Homo sapiens: one gene and its partners. The protein of the gene in region 1 purifies or fractionates together with the protein of each later gene. This does not show direct contact. Each region holds a gene or a part of one and is shown in the gene's direction. Other genes may lie near its edges.

Region 1 (3,500 bases):
TTTTTTTTAAATTACAGTTATACATGCATAGTTTTAAAAACTAAACATTTCAGTCTGGGCACAGTGCCTAACACAAACATTATGGGCTCACACCTGTAATCCCAGCACTTCGGGAGGCCAAGGCAGGCAGATCACTTGAGGCCAGGAGTTTGAGACCACTCTGGCCAACACAGTGAAACCCCATTTCTACTAAAAATAGAAAAACTAGTTGGGTGTGGTGGTGCGTACCTGTAATCCCAGCTACTTGGGAGGCTGAGGCAGGAGAATTGCTTGAACCTGGGAGGCAGAGGTTGCAGTGAGCCAAGATCACGCCATTGCACTCTAGCCTGGGCAACAGAGCAAGACTCCATCTCAAAAAACAAACAAACAAACAAAAACAAAACAAAACAAAAAAACATTTCTGTAATCCCATCATTTTGGGAGGCCAAGGCAGGGAGGATCACTTGAGCCCAGGAGTTCAAGACCAGCCTGGGCAACATGGTGAAACCGCATCTCTACAAAACATTAGCTGGGTGTAGTGGTGCATGCCTGTGGTCCCAGCTACTCAGGAGGCTGAGGTGGGAGGATCTCCCTGCAAGGCCGCAGTTAGCCATGGTTGTGCCACTGCACTCCAGCCCAGTAACAGAGTGAGACTCTGTCAAAAACAAAAACAAAAAAAACCTAAACATTTCTCCAAGGTTTGTTAGGAATGTAGGCCATCCCATTGTCTGCCCCTTTTCCTCCCTCTGCCTTCCTCCATTTTCACCTCTTCTCAGACAACCACTTTTGCCTTTTTTGCTGATTATTTTGGTATAAATCTCTCTCTCTCTCTCTCTCTCTCTCTCTCTCTCTGCCCCCTCCCCCTCCCTCCCTCTTGCCTGTAGTCCTACCTCTTAACTTTTTAGTGTTAGGCATTATCTTTTGATAACTTTCCTTTCCAAGGAAGCTATATTGTGATTTTGATTAAGTTGGTATTCAGCATTACATTGTTGTACTTTTGTTTTTTGAGATAGAGCCTGTTACCCAGGCTGGAGTACAGTGGCAGAATCATAGCTTACTGCAGCCTCAGTCTCTCGGGCTTAAGTGATCCTCTCACCTCAGCCTCTCAAGTAGCTGGGATTACAGGTGCACACCACACCCAGCTAATATATATGTATGTATATATTTTAGTAGAGCTGAGGTCTCACTGTGTTGTCCGGGCTGGTCTCCAACTCCTGAGCTCAAGAGATCCTCCCACCTCAGCCTCCCAAAGTGTTGGGATTACAGGCACGAGCCACCATGCCTGGCCTACGTAAGTGCTATTTCCAGCCGAGTCAGTAGTAATCTGTGACTGCATTTCTTGTTCAATCTTTGTGTACTTTGAAGTTAATAATTGTCTCTCTTGCTCGTTTTCTATGTAGTTATCACTAATCAACACCCAATTCTATGTCAGTTCTCTAAGTCTTATTTTGAGGTGTTTAGATAGGTTAGACTTATGCTTATTTACCTTCCTGAAGAAGTTGCTTCTAGAATTTTCTGCCCCATTCCATTCTAGCCTGGTCACCTTCTAATCCCGGGACCTCCCTTTACCATTATCCTGGGGATTCACTTCACCTCAGCCCATGTTGGACAGAGAATTACAAGAACCTTCAGTTTCCTGAAGGAATATAGTTTCCAACCTAGGCAAGCAGTCAGTCAATGTGAGGGTATGGTAGATATTTTCAGACATGCAAGTTCTCAACAACAACCAATTCCCCTTAAATGCTGCTTTTCCTCGGGAAGTTGCTAGGGGAGTTGTTTCTCTAAAATAACAGTGTAAGCCCAGGAAGAGGAAGCGTCCTGGGAAACCTGACACGAAGCGACTGTACTGTGCTGCAAGCCCATCTCAGTCTAGAAGTTCGGTCTTCAGTGCTGGGGAATTTTCTTGAAAGAAAATTTCAATTAGTTTTTCCTGCCATGATCCATAGTTATTTTTTGGCAGTGAGGAATAAGAGAGTTAAAAAACTGAATGAAAACTCTAGGTGGGGACAGGGTCCCTCAGTCAGTGTGCAGTGACTTGGCCACACTGTTTGGGGAAGGACACTGCACATGTCATTGTCTCTTAGGTCTTTCTCTTGGCTGGTCAGGTCCTCCTGCTTGGGGGGGTAAAGGCCTGGCTACCAGCATTCCTAGAACTGACCACTGTAGGTCACAAGAGGTTGGAGGGGTCCAGAGGGCACCTCACCCCCATGTGCCAGCCTTGCCCTCCCCTCCTTGTGGCCAGCACACCTCTCTTGCTCTTGCAGTGCCAGCCTCAGCCAAGCAACTTCTCCGTGGGAAAGGGCTGGGGCCAGGCTTTCCAGAGCTGGGGTGTGATTTTTAAATAGGCTTTCTTTCTGGCTTCCAAATTTTTATTACCCCTATTTCCTTTCCTTTTTTTCTTAAGGGTTTATGCCCTTTTTATAAAGCTCCTTTTCTGTTGTTCTAGTGAAGTTTTAGGAGAGATTAGAAGATACTAGTGTTCAAGCCACCATCTTTACTCAGAAGTCTGTACCAGCCTAACTTCATAGGTATCATAGCATTGAAAGAACTAATTTGATTGGCCGGGGTGCAGTGGCTCACGCCTGTAATCCCAGCACTTTGGAAGGCCGAGGCAGGCGAATCACCAGGTCAGAAGTTTGAGACCAGCCTGACCAACTGGTGAAACCCCGTCTCTACTAAAAACACAAAAATTAGCCGGCCGTGGTGGCGCGTGCCTGTAATCCCAGCTACTCCAGGAGGCTGAGGCAGGAGAATCGCTTGAACCCGGGAGGCAGAGGTTGCAGTGAGCCGAGATCACACCACTGCACTCCAGCCTGCGTGACAGAGCAAGACCCCATCTCAAAAGAAAAAAAAGAAAAAAAAAAAAACTAATTTGTTTCAAATGGCAATCATTCTTCATATATGTTACTATGTTGGAACAAAATAATAATAGGCGTCCCACTCAGGTAGACAGATACCATTCTTCCAGGTAGGACTGTGGTATGAATAGTACTTTAATGTTTTCTATATTTTAATGGTAAAGTTGAGCATGTGTAGACGGGTATTTATAGGACGGATCACTAGCCAGACACTTGTAAGCTCCTATAGAACATTAATAGCTATACCTTATCCTACTTTTTTCCTTAAGACAGCTGTGAAAACAAACAGACTAGGAAAAAACCCTGAGGGAAATATTTTTACAAGCTGGGTCAGAAGAGGTTTTATTTTATAGTTGTTCATCCAAAGCATACTTGTCTTTAGGCAATGCAATTGATTTGTTTTAAATTAAGAAAAAAATCTTAATACCAGCAACATATGTAGTCTTTGTAACATTTTCTCTATTTATTAAATATGATTATTACTTTAATAAATATAGTAAGATGAAAAGTAAATATTTGCCCTTGGGTTTTTTTAACCTGAAAATGTGTAATAGGCACATAGTTATTCATTTGAAATTATCTTTCACACTATCATCTATCCGATATCTACAGATAACTCCAAAATTTACATCATAGCCCCCTCCCTTCTCCTGAGACATGGCG
Region 2 (3,500 bases), on another chromosome or scaffold:
TGAGCTGGGTCCAGAGGCAGACCAGCCTGAGGTGGGGGACCCCAGCATGTACACTGGAAGGAATGGGGTGGCTCGTCCTCATGGCACCTGGACTGAAGCTTGTTGGGGAGGGTCCACAGAGCCCTTCCTTCCCCAGCTCTACTACCACCCTTGCCTCCTCAGGCTGCTAAATTCCGCCAGTTCTGGGGATCCCGCTCGGAGCTTCGGCGTTTCCAGGACGGAGCCATTCGGGAAGCTGTGGTCTGGGAGGCAGCCTCTATGTCCCAGAAGCGCCTTATTCCCCACCAGGTGGTCACCCACCTCTTGGCACTGTGAGTGTTGGCATCTGGATTCCAGAAGGCAGTGTGGGCTGGGGAGCCTTTTCAGGGGTCTGGCCCAGGCAGTTGAGCGAGAACATAGCCCCAAATTTTCTCACTGTGTCTCTGCCTCTTTTTCAGCCATGCTGACATCCCAGAAACCTGTGTCCACTATGTGGGGGGCCCCCTGGATGCACTTATCCAAGGCCTGAAAGAGGTAAGGGTCTTGGGGTCAAGGCTAGTGATTGTAGAGTAATCAATCTGCGGGGAGAGAGTCCTCTCAGCCTTGGCCAGCTTGCACTTCCTGGCATGTCCAGCAGGCGGCGGTGCTGGCTCTGCTGCAGCCTGAGCTGGGGCAGAATCCAGGTGAAGCTGGCCTTCTGTAGGGTCCAGCCTCCTGACCGTCTTCTCCCTCTCAGACCTCCAGCACAGGTGAGGAGGCCCTGGTAGCGGCGGTACGTTGCTACGACGACCTCAGTCGCCTACTGTGGGGGCTAGAGGGTCTCCCACTGACCGTGTCTGCTGTTCAGGGAGCTCACCCAGTGCTGCGCTACACAGAGGTGAGGTGCAACGGTGCAGGTGACCTTTCTGCTTAGTGGCCCCACCTCTGCTCCAGTCACCCAGTATTCCCCACTTCCAACTCCTGACTCTGGGCACTCCCTCCCAGTCCTAGGCCCATTCCTCAGCCCCTCTTCTTCCACAGGTGTTCCCACCAACTCCAGTCCGTCCAGCCTTCTCCTTCTATGAGACTCTGCGGGAGCGGTCCTCACTGCTGCCCCGGCTCGATAAGCCCTGTCCGGCCTACGTGGAGCCCATGACCGGTAAGAGGGCCCTTGGGAGGGAGTGGGAGGGATAGTTCCAGCTCCAGGCCACAGTATGAGACCTCTGACTCTTCTTCCTCAGTGGTTTGTCACCTGGAGGGCAGTGGCCAGTGGCCACAGGACGCTGAGGCCGTGCAGCGGGTCCGAGCTGCCTTCCAGCTGCGCCTGGCAGAGCTGTTGACACAACAGCATGGTCTGCAGTGCCGTGCCACTGCCACGCACACGGATGTCCTTAAGGTTAGGCTGGTGCAGGCAGATATGTCCCCAGGGAAGGGGGGCACCAGGGATGTCAGGGCGTGGAAGAAGACACCCCTGTGGGTACCACGCTGGGTAATAGGGCTGTAGGCCACAGAGTACTCCCGGGGTTCTGGGCTGACACATCCTTCTCTTTCCATACCTTCTTCCAACAGGATGGATTTGTGTTTCGGATTCGCGTGGCCTATCAGCGGGAGCCCCAGATCCTGAAGGAGGTGCAGAGCCCAGAGGGGATGATCTCGCTGAGGGACACAGCTGCCTCCCTCCGCCTTGAGAGAGACACAAGGCAGTTGCCACTGCTCACCAGTGCCCTGCACGGGTAAGGCCACTGACACAGCTTCTTCCTGTCTGTAGGCCCCCTCCTGCCCCCATTCTCCTCACCTAGCCACCTGTCTCTCCAGGGGCCAGATGGTATCATAGTTAGGGGTATGAGTTCTGGAGTCAGGCAGGTTCTGGAATCCTGGCTCTGCCACTTACTGACTGTGACCCTATGGTCAGATTTTCCTCCTTGGTCCCTATATTTGTCATCTGTAAAATGGAAATAACACTAGGGTCAACTTCTTGGTGCATTTCTTAAGAGAATATGAGATTACATATGTAACCTATTATCACTGAGGCTGGCCTTGGGTAGGGGCTGGATGAACAGTGGCAGTGGGGCCCTGAGTCTCGCTGACACTCCCCTTCTCTCTGCAGACTGCAGCAGCAGCACCCAGCCTTCTCTGGTGTGGCACGGCTGGCCAAGCGGTGGGTGCGTGCCCAGCTTCTTGGTGAGGGTTTCGCTGATGAGAGCCTGGATCTGGTGGCCGCTGCCCTTTTCCTGCACCCTGAGCCCTTCACCCCTCCGAGGTGATTCCCTCCACTTTTTCCCCAGCTGAGAAGTTTCCTTGCGGCCAGCCATCATCCTTCGTGCTGCACCCTAAGTCTACATGGGAATGGGTGGTTGAGCAAGTGGCAGAAGGGGTTCTAAGATGCCCTGCCCTGCCAATCCACACCAGGGGGTCTGAGCTCCATAGCCTGAGAGAAGCCTGGGGATATGTGGCTGGGCCCTGGATTCTTTGCTTACTCCAGCCCTTTAGTTCCCCCCAGGTTGGCTTCCTTCGATTCCTTTTCTTGGTATCAACGTTTGATTGGAAGAACAACCCCCTCTTTGTCAACCTCAATAATGAGCTCACTGGTAAGTGGTAGAACAGGGGTCAGACTGCTGGAAGAACAGCTCTTTATGGATTGCAGGCAAGGGTTTCCCTGGCAGTGTTAGGTTTTCTCTGTGCCTCCCCAGCCCCAGATGTCTAAGCCTGACATGAAGAAGAGGTCCAGGTGAACAGCCTGACCATTATGACATGGTTTGCTCTTAATTGTCAGAGACAGAATGATAGGGTGGTAAGCAAGCTACCTGGCGGGGGGCTGTGGAAGGAAGAGGAGAATAGAAGGGGGATCCTGAATACCACGTAAGAAGTATTAGGGCACGGAGCTAGGAAGTGTAGCACAGATACTCAGACCTCTTGGTGGGGGTGGGAGTGGTGATTTCTGGTTGTAACGTGAGGCACTCGGTCTCTGCAGAGAGCAGGGTGTCAGGTTCCTAATTCCCCAGGTGTGTGGAAGCCCATGGTGGGAGGGGGCCAGGGGCAAGACTCAGCTTGTGCAGGCCCGGAAACCAGACTGGGGGTGCCAAGCAGTGGAAAATTTTGCCTCTGGGCTGAGGTTGGGCGATTAATGCCCCACCCAGTTGAGGCAAATGCGATGTCCCTTTCGTCACCTTTGCCACTTGGTGGGGGGGAGTGTTGAAAAATACCTGTGATGAGCAGCCGTTGGGGGCACCGTAGGAGGACCTGGGGGAGTAGAGGGTGTCTTACAGGGAGGAGCAGGCTGACCCAGGACCCATTCTTGTCTCTAGTGGAGGAGCAGGTGGAGATCCGCAGTGGCTTCCTGGCAGCTCGGGCACAGCTCCCCGTCATGGTCATTGTTACCCCCCAAGACCGCAAAAACTCTGTGTGGACACAGGATGGACCCTCAGCCCAGGTTCAACCCCATACCTGCCCCCTAATGTGTGGTTTTCTTCCCAAGGAAAAAGCAGGCCCAGCCTGACCTGGGAGAGACCCACTTCAGTTCCAGTCTGATGTGTCTGTACCCC
Region 3 (3,500 bases), on another chromosome or scaffold:
GATACTGGTGGGTGCTGGCATTCCTGGCTATGGCCCATGTCCTTCCAGTCTACGAAAGCAGCATTTTCAGTTCTCTCTGCCATGTCTTCTTCTTCTTCCTCTTTTTTGGAGACAGAGTCTTGCTCTGTTGCCTAGGCTGGATGCAGCGACGTGATCTTGGCTCATTGCAACCTCCGCTTCCTGAGTTCAAGCAAGATTATCCTGCCTCAGCCTCCTGAGTAGTTGGGACTACGGGCGCGTGCCACCACGCCCAGCTAACTTTTGTATTTTTAGTAGAGACGGGGTTTCACCATGTTGGCCAGGCTGGTTTCGAACTCCTGACCTCAGGTGATCTGCCCACCTTGGCCTCCCAAAGTGCTGGGATTACAGGTGTGAGCCACTGTGCCCGGCCTCTCCGCTTGTCTTCTCATTGCCTTCAGTGTGTGTCTCGTTCTTATAAGGATACATGTGATTGCACTGTGGTCCACCCAGATAATTCGGAATAATCCTCCCTCTCAAGATCCTTAATTTAATCATATCTACAAAGACTTCTTCTTTTTTTTTTTTTTTTTTTTGCCATATGAGGTAACATTGTCAGATTTCAGGGATCAGGGTGTGGAAGTCTTTTGTGGGGCAATAGTTCAGCTTATCCCACTCAGTCGTTTATAATAGACTTTTAATGTTCTTACTTTTATTTTATAGTTTAGTTTTTAACAGGCCCCCATGTCCACTTCTGGGTTGGTGGGAGATGATGGCATTGGGTGGCAGAGAAAATATCTCATCTTTTCTAGATACGATGCAGAAAATTCTAGGTCTGTGGTTCTAGGAAGGACAAATCAGAGATGATAGTTTGGAAATAAAACAGTTAAAGTAACCTAGCTTGAGAACAGAGGTAGGTGTGGTGGTGCTATTTTTTAAAGAATAGAGAATTTAGAAGAGTCACAAGCTAGTTTCAGGTATGGGGAGGAGGAGATATGTAGAGTGTGGGACATACTGAGTTTTCAGAAGTTCTGAAATATGGTAAAATTAGTAATGGTGGATATATTTTTGGCAAATGCATGTTCAGTGGATTGTTGGTGTAGAAGTCACTTTATACTAGATTAAAGATTAAATTGAAGATGGGGAGTATTGATACATTCTATTCTCTAGAATAATGATGCTTGGCATTTAGTAAGTAATCAGTGTTGGCTATTATGATAATTACTGTGGTTGCTCTAACAAATTACTTTGTTATATACTTTTATGTGTATATACTTTTATGTGTTCCAATACTATAACATTTTTGTCTTCAGCTGTTTGGTGTGTGTCTTGATATGTACATAATATTAAATAAATACTGATCTAGAAAGATGTGTGTTTTAGTAATTATTTTAATTATTGCCATTGCCATACTATTAAAATTAATGAAAACAATTTAGAATTTTTTTTAAAAAAAAGAATTAGTTTCAATTTCTCATTTGAATAGATTATTATTTCTCAAAAAAAGCAGTGAGGTTGGGGGGCACTTAGCAATAGTTTCCTAAAGATTAAAATGATGGTATTCTGGTTGAATGGTTTTTTTATGTTATATCAAGAAATATAATTTGGTTTGTGTTTTTTCATTTAAAATAATAGTGTATTGTAGCTATGGTTATTCATGCCTGAAACAAAAAATTAAACCTTGGTCATTGTGTGTATTTCTTTCAGGTTTGATTTAATTTTGGATGAGATCGTTCTTGCAGCAAGATGTTAATAAGACAAAATCTAGGTAAGTAGAAGACTGCTTTGTTAAATGTACATATCAAGGTAGGAATAATACAAAAAAATTATGTCTTAAAAATGTGGTGTTGAGTTCAGAACCAAAGAGTTTTTAAATAAAATTTTGAAATGCAAATAATTGACTTTTTGACACACTTGGTCCAGTTGATTTGATGGGAGTAAAATTATAACTATCACATTGTGGAACTAAATTTTTAGTTTCCTTCTTTTGTGTTGAGGTTAACTAAAGCATTCAAGTTTCCAGTGAATATTCTAAAATGTTAGAAAATCAAGTTAATGTTTGGTTCAGCCACTCTTATTGAACTCTGACCACTTCAGTAAGACATTTATTGTGTCACTTCATTGTTCTCTCCTTTGTTGATAAAGTATATGAATAGTCATTGCTTTTGTGAATTTTGCTTCATTTTTAATGTTAAGGAAGCACTTTCCCAAATGGGATAAATTTGCCAAATTGTGATTTCTTTCTGTTAATATAGTATTCAAAATTGTAAATTATTGTTTTAATGTTTTCCTAGTGGGTGTCTCTACTGAATGACCTCTCTAATATAGCATTCTGATTAGCTTTCTAAGGCTGTTCACTTTTAAAAAATTGAATTGGCATCATGTACTTTGGTATGTGAAAGAATGCTTTTTAATAATATAAGCCGTTGACATGTTTTAAAAAGATACATTTACTATTTATTGGTAAGTGAATATGGCTTCAAAATGGAAACAAGGGAAAAAGAACATTGAAAAAATTGGAGTTAACTTGGTTTTCCCTCTAACCAGATGTTTCAGCTGTCAAAAATTTGCTGATCTCAATGTTTGTTAAAGAAAAAAAAAGTCTAGGATGAAAAGTGCTGTAGTTCAGTAATATGCACTGAAGGAAATCTCAGTCAGTGGTTTGGGCATGTTTTGAAGCAAAATTTTGCTTTTATTGCTATTATATAATAATAACAGTAGTGGTAGTTTGAAGAGTACTTATTGTGCTCTAAATTCTGTTAAGTGCTTGTCATACCTTATTGATCGTTATAGTACCTCCTCTTGTTGTGTAGAAAAATTTTATTTTTTGCTTTATAGTGGGCTGTTTTTCTTTAGGAATAATAATTTACTTCTGTAGCATTTATTAGAAATAACACTTGCCTATGTATCTTCTTAAAGTGGAGAAGAAGCCATTCTTTTGTACTTGAAGGTCTTATTAGGGTTTGTTTTCTAGTTGAATATACAGTGTCTGTTAAAACTTTTGTTCTGATTTTCTATGTTTGATATTGCTTGTGGGATGACACTGGTTTAACTTATTCTGACCTTATTTTTCACCATGCTTATATATGTAGTTTTTTCTTTTTTATTATGGTATAGTTTACATATATATGGTAACATAAAATTTGAGGTATAGAGCTGAATGACTTTTCACATACACATTCATATGTGTAACCACCATCTAGATCAAGATATAGAACATTTCATTACTTTGGAAAGTTCCTTGTGCTTTCCCCGCTTCCAGTCTAATAGCCTTTTCCCCTGAAGTAATCATCTTTCTGAATTCTGTCAGCATAATTTAGTTTTGCCTGTTCTTGGATTTTATATATAGTATGTACTCTTGTATGTGGCTTTTTCATTCAACATAATGTTCTTGAGCTTCATCTATGTTGTGACTATGTCAGCAGTTCATTATTTTTTATTGCTGTTTTATTTTTAGTAATATTCCATTGTATGAACACACTACAAAGTATTTATGTTTTCTCAGTGATTTGGTTTATTGGATTCTCCATATCTCTGTTCCT
Region 4 (3,500 bases), on another chromosome or scaffold:
AAACTGAGCTTGTCGGATCTAGCAAAGTTTAGAATTCCGAAAGCTAAAATACAGTACTATTTCAAAATGTTGATTTGAAAACAGTTTTTAAATCACTCCAGGCTGGGCACAGTGGCTCACACCTGTAATCCCAGTACTTCAGAGGCCCAGGCAGGAGGATCGCTTGAAGCCAAGAGTTTTTGGCTGCAGTAATCTATGATTGTACCACTGCACTCCAGCCTGAGCAACAGAGCAAGACCTTGTCTTTAAAATAATAATAATAATAAATTATTCCATCCTACCTGCCAATCTAGTGGATTTCTCAGATTTGGGTTTTGTGTACCTAGAACCAGTGAGACAGTTTGGGTGGCCTCCTTCACAGAGGACAAGGTAGGGTGCTGAAATGGAATCTGCCAGGTCAGGGGTCATTAACTGACATTAGGAACTGATATTTACTGTTATTTGCCAAGAGCCTACTCTGCCCTGACCTGGTGGCACTTAGGGCTTTGAGTTGCTGCCCTGCACCCCTGGTCCCTGAGTGGCCTATCCTGCACTCCTGGTCTCTGAGCTTTGGGCATGCTCCTGCTAACATAAGTGGTTGCCATGACATCCCTCAGGTCTTTCCTCTTCCACTTCATAGAATGTATTCAGGCTAAGTGGGAAGTGGCCTTTCTACTTACTGGACCTGCTGCTCCATAATTCAGCCCTTACCCTACCCCTGCCTTTTGAACACTCTGCCATGAGCTGAGAGTAATGAAATACTGCAAAGATGCTCCATCCCTGGCAGGGCACAGTGGCTCACACCTGTAATCCCAGCACTTTAGGAGACTGAGGTGGGAGGATTGCTTGAGCCCGGGAGTTCAAGACTAGCCTGGGCAACATAGTGAAACCTTGTCTCTGCAAAAAATTTAAAAATTAGCCAGGCATGGTGGCATGCACCTGTGGTCCCAGCTACTCAGGAGGCTGAGGTGGGAGGATTATACAAGCCCAGGAGGCGGAGGTTGCAGTGAGCCAAGATTGTGCCACTGCACTCCAGCCTGGGTGACAGCCTGTCTCAGAAAATCCAAAAAATTGCTGCATCCCAACTGGGGGCTTCTCATCATCCAACACATATGAAGTGGTTCCTCTTGAAATTAGATCTTGAACATGATAGATTTCCAGGGTAGAGAATAATGTCTTAGTTCAAATACATTACCAACTTCTTTGCCAGTTGTTAATTGAGACAAAACATCAAATTGAAGACCCAATTTCATGGTTAGCTGTGGATTAAAATGTTCAAACTAGAATTCACAGCTGTGAATTTATAGTGGCCTTTTTTTAAAAACTATTTGACATGGCATGTATTAGATGGCTGTCTTTGAACTCTTTGCATTTGTTTTCATTATCCTTTGTTTTATGTGACTTTAGTATCCTATTACTCTTTCCTAATTAGAGGAATTAATACAAACGAAGAACCTTTCAAGTTCCTGTTATTTAATCTAGTCCTAAACAAAATAAGCACTTTTTGGATTAGGGGATGTTATTCTTTACTGTGTAGGCAGTACATTTAAATTGTTAATTGTTACGCAATTGAGCTGGTAAACAAGGTAGGCCTGCCTATTAGCAGGGTTTATCAAAGTGCAGTGAGATCACAGCATGGCCTGTTATTCTACATCCTTTCAGTAGATGAGGTGTGGCAGATTTTAGAATCTGACTAACAAAATGGGTTGTATATTGTTAGAGAGCAGTCCTTTTAAAATTTCATTGAGAAAGCCACATTTAGTGATGGCCTTAGATCAATGCATTAAAGAGAAAGCATTTCCTGAATCATGGGGCCTATGTGATTGAATCCATTTGCCTACTCTCTGGTGGCCGTACTGAACCACAGAACCATCCTGCCTATGAGGTGTCAGTGTTTTGTAATGCAGATATTATATGGCCATTAGTCTTTTAAACCCAACTTCCAAACCAAAAAGCACAGGTCCGAATTGGATGAGCAGGTGGGATACTCCAGCTCAGAGCCTATGGGCCCTTCTTAACCAGTTTAAAAGGAAGCAGTCATACCTAGAGGTGGAGTTGGTGAGAGAAGTTGTGTTCCAGTCAGTAAGATTGTAATTCAGCTTCTCTTTTTTCCCTGAATTTAGTTGTTCGTCTGTGATAAGGTTGAGAGAAACAGCTGGAGGTAGGGCTTTCCTTCTAGGTCCATTATATTGTATGTTTCTGTGAGAAGAAAAGATGTTTGAGGCATTCTAGTAGAATGAACAGAAGAGAAGAAAAAGAGTAAAGGTAAATTACAGCAGAGATTCTTTGGAAATTATTAAAATTAACATTATTTAATTTAAATAATTTCAAAATGTTGAATTAATAATTTTAATTATAATTTATAGTTATAATTATATGTAGTTACATTTACGTAACTAATATATAATACTTATAATTTTAATTAATTTTAAATAATTATTTAAAATAGAATTAACACTAATAAAAGCTATATTATTAACAAAATTGAGAAAGAGTTTTCCTTACCAAAACTTATTGGACATCAGCGTTCTAGTTCATTGGAACTGTCTAGAATGGTGTATTTTTTGTTCATTCACTTTTGTTCACTGCCATCTCACTGCCCTTTCAGATCCTTCTCACAAAAGATGACCAGATTCCTGATCTTCCTGATCTGTCCCTCTCCTCCTCAGTCTTTACTAACAGCTTAGAAGGAATTCAAGGTCCTCTGTAATGCACCCTCCCCTGACCAAACATATTTTCTCCCACTCCTTTTGTACTCTTTGAAAGTCATATTGAGCTATTCACTTACGCTTTGCCTGTCCTAGGCCTTCTACTTCTCTCTTTGCTTATGCTGGTCCTTAGCTGTCACCAAATGCCCCCATCATTCTTGTCATTCAAGGCTTGGCTTAAATTCTTTGTCTTCTATAAAGTCTTTCTTGATTCTCTTACTGGGAAGGAGCTTCTCACTTCTCAATCCCTTCTGGTACTTTCTGGCCCCTCCATTATAATTCAGCACTCTACCATGATTAGGGTTATATGTGTATGTGACTTATCTTTTCCTTAGACTGTCAGCTAGGACGGTATGCAGTTTCACAACTGTATCTGCAAAGTTCCTGTTACCCTGAGCCCTGAACATAATAAGTACTTAACAGTGGCTGTTGAGTTAATGAATATGGAAAATTTTCTGTGTCAGAAAAATTATAGCCCTGTAGCCTTATTGGCTTTTTGATTTAAGATTATACATTAATTTTTGAGCATTAGTAAAGATTAGAAAATTTTATTCAAAAAACATTCCTTCTTAGACGATCTAAGAGGGTTGTACATATAAAGTGCAGGGCTCTACAGCTTCCTGCGTGGGGGTGAGAATTTGGTGCCATCCATCCATACCAGTGCATTTTTAGTGAATACTTCCTATGAGCTAGGTGCTGGCTCTGTAGCCACAATCAATGCCTGGGTGTTGGGAAAAGCACTGGGATAAGAGAGAGGCTGTGGAATCACATAGAATGGGCACATAACCCAGACAGGAGTCAGGAAAGTTTTCC

What was found. The genes of interacting proteins can lie anywhere in the genome.
Region 2: the proteins of NOL10 (region 1) and NOL6 fractionate together in Homo sapiens (co-fractionation; one large-scale study listed by BioGRID). This does not show direct contact.
Region 3: the proteins of NOL10 (region 1) and ZNF644 purify together in Homo sapiens (affinity purification with mass spectrometry; one large-scale study listed by BioGRID and IntAct). This does not show direct contact.
Region 4: the proteins of NOL10 (region 1) and SRI purify together in Homo sapiens (affinity purification with mass spectrometry; one large-scale study listed by BioGRID and IntAct). This does not show direct contact.

The regions. Positions count from the first base shown.
Region 1 is NC_000002.12:10,592,476-10,595,975, reverse strand, and holds part of NOL10 (nucleolar protein 10), read left to right. Parts: intron 1-3,500.
Region 2 is NC_000009.12:33,463,925-33,467,424, reverse strand, and holds part of NOL6 (nucleolar protein 6), read left to right. Parts: coding exon 1-31; intron 32-162; coding exon 163-311; intron 312-437; coding exon 438-513; intron 514-715; coding exon 716-856; intron 857-999; coding exon 1,000-1,117; intron 1,118-1,199; coding exon 1,200-1,354; intron 1,355-1,527; coding exon 1,528-1,691; intron 1,692-2,065; coding exon 2,066-2,218; intron 2,219-2,448; coding exon 2,449-2,546; intron 2,547-3,263; coding exon 3,264-3,388; intron 3,389-3,500. UniProt on the Homo sapiens protein: Part of the small subunit (SSU) processome, first precursor of the small eukaryotic ribosomal subunit.
Region 3 is NC_000001.11:90,980,536-90,984,035, reverse strand, and holds part of ZNF644 (zinc finger protein 644), read left to right. Parts: intron 1-1,665; 5' UTR 1,666-1,682; coding exon 1,683-1,726; intron 1,727-3,500.
Region 4 is NC_000007.14:88,213,539-88,217,038, reverse strand, and holds part of SRI (sorcin), read left to right. Parts: intron 1-281; exon of another isoform or gene 282-379; intron 380-454; exon of another isoform or gene 455-596; intron 597-2,102; exon of another isoform or gene 2,103-2,463; intron 2,464-3,500. UniProt on the Homo sapiens protein: Calcium-binding protein that modulates excitation-contraction coupling in the heart. Contributes to calcium homeostasis in the heart sarcoplasmic reticulum. Modulates the activity of RYR2 calcium channels.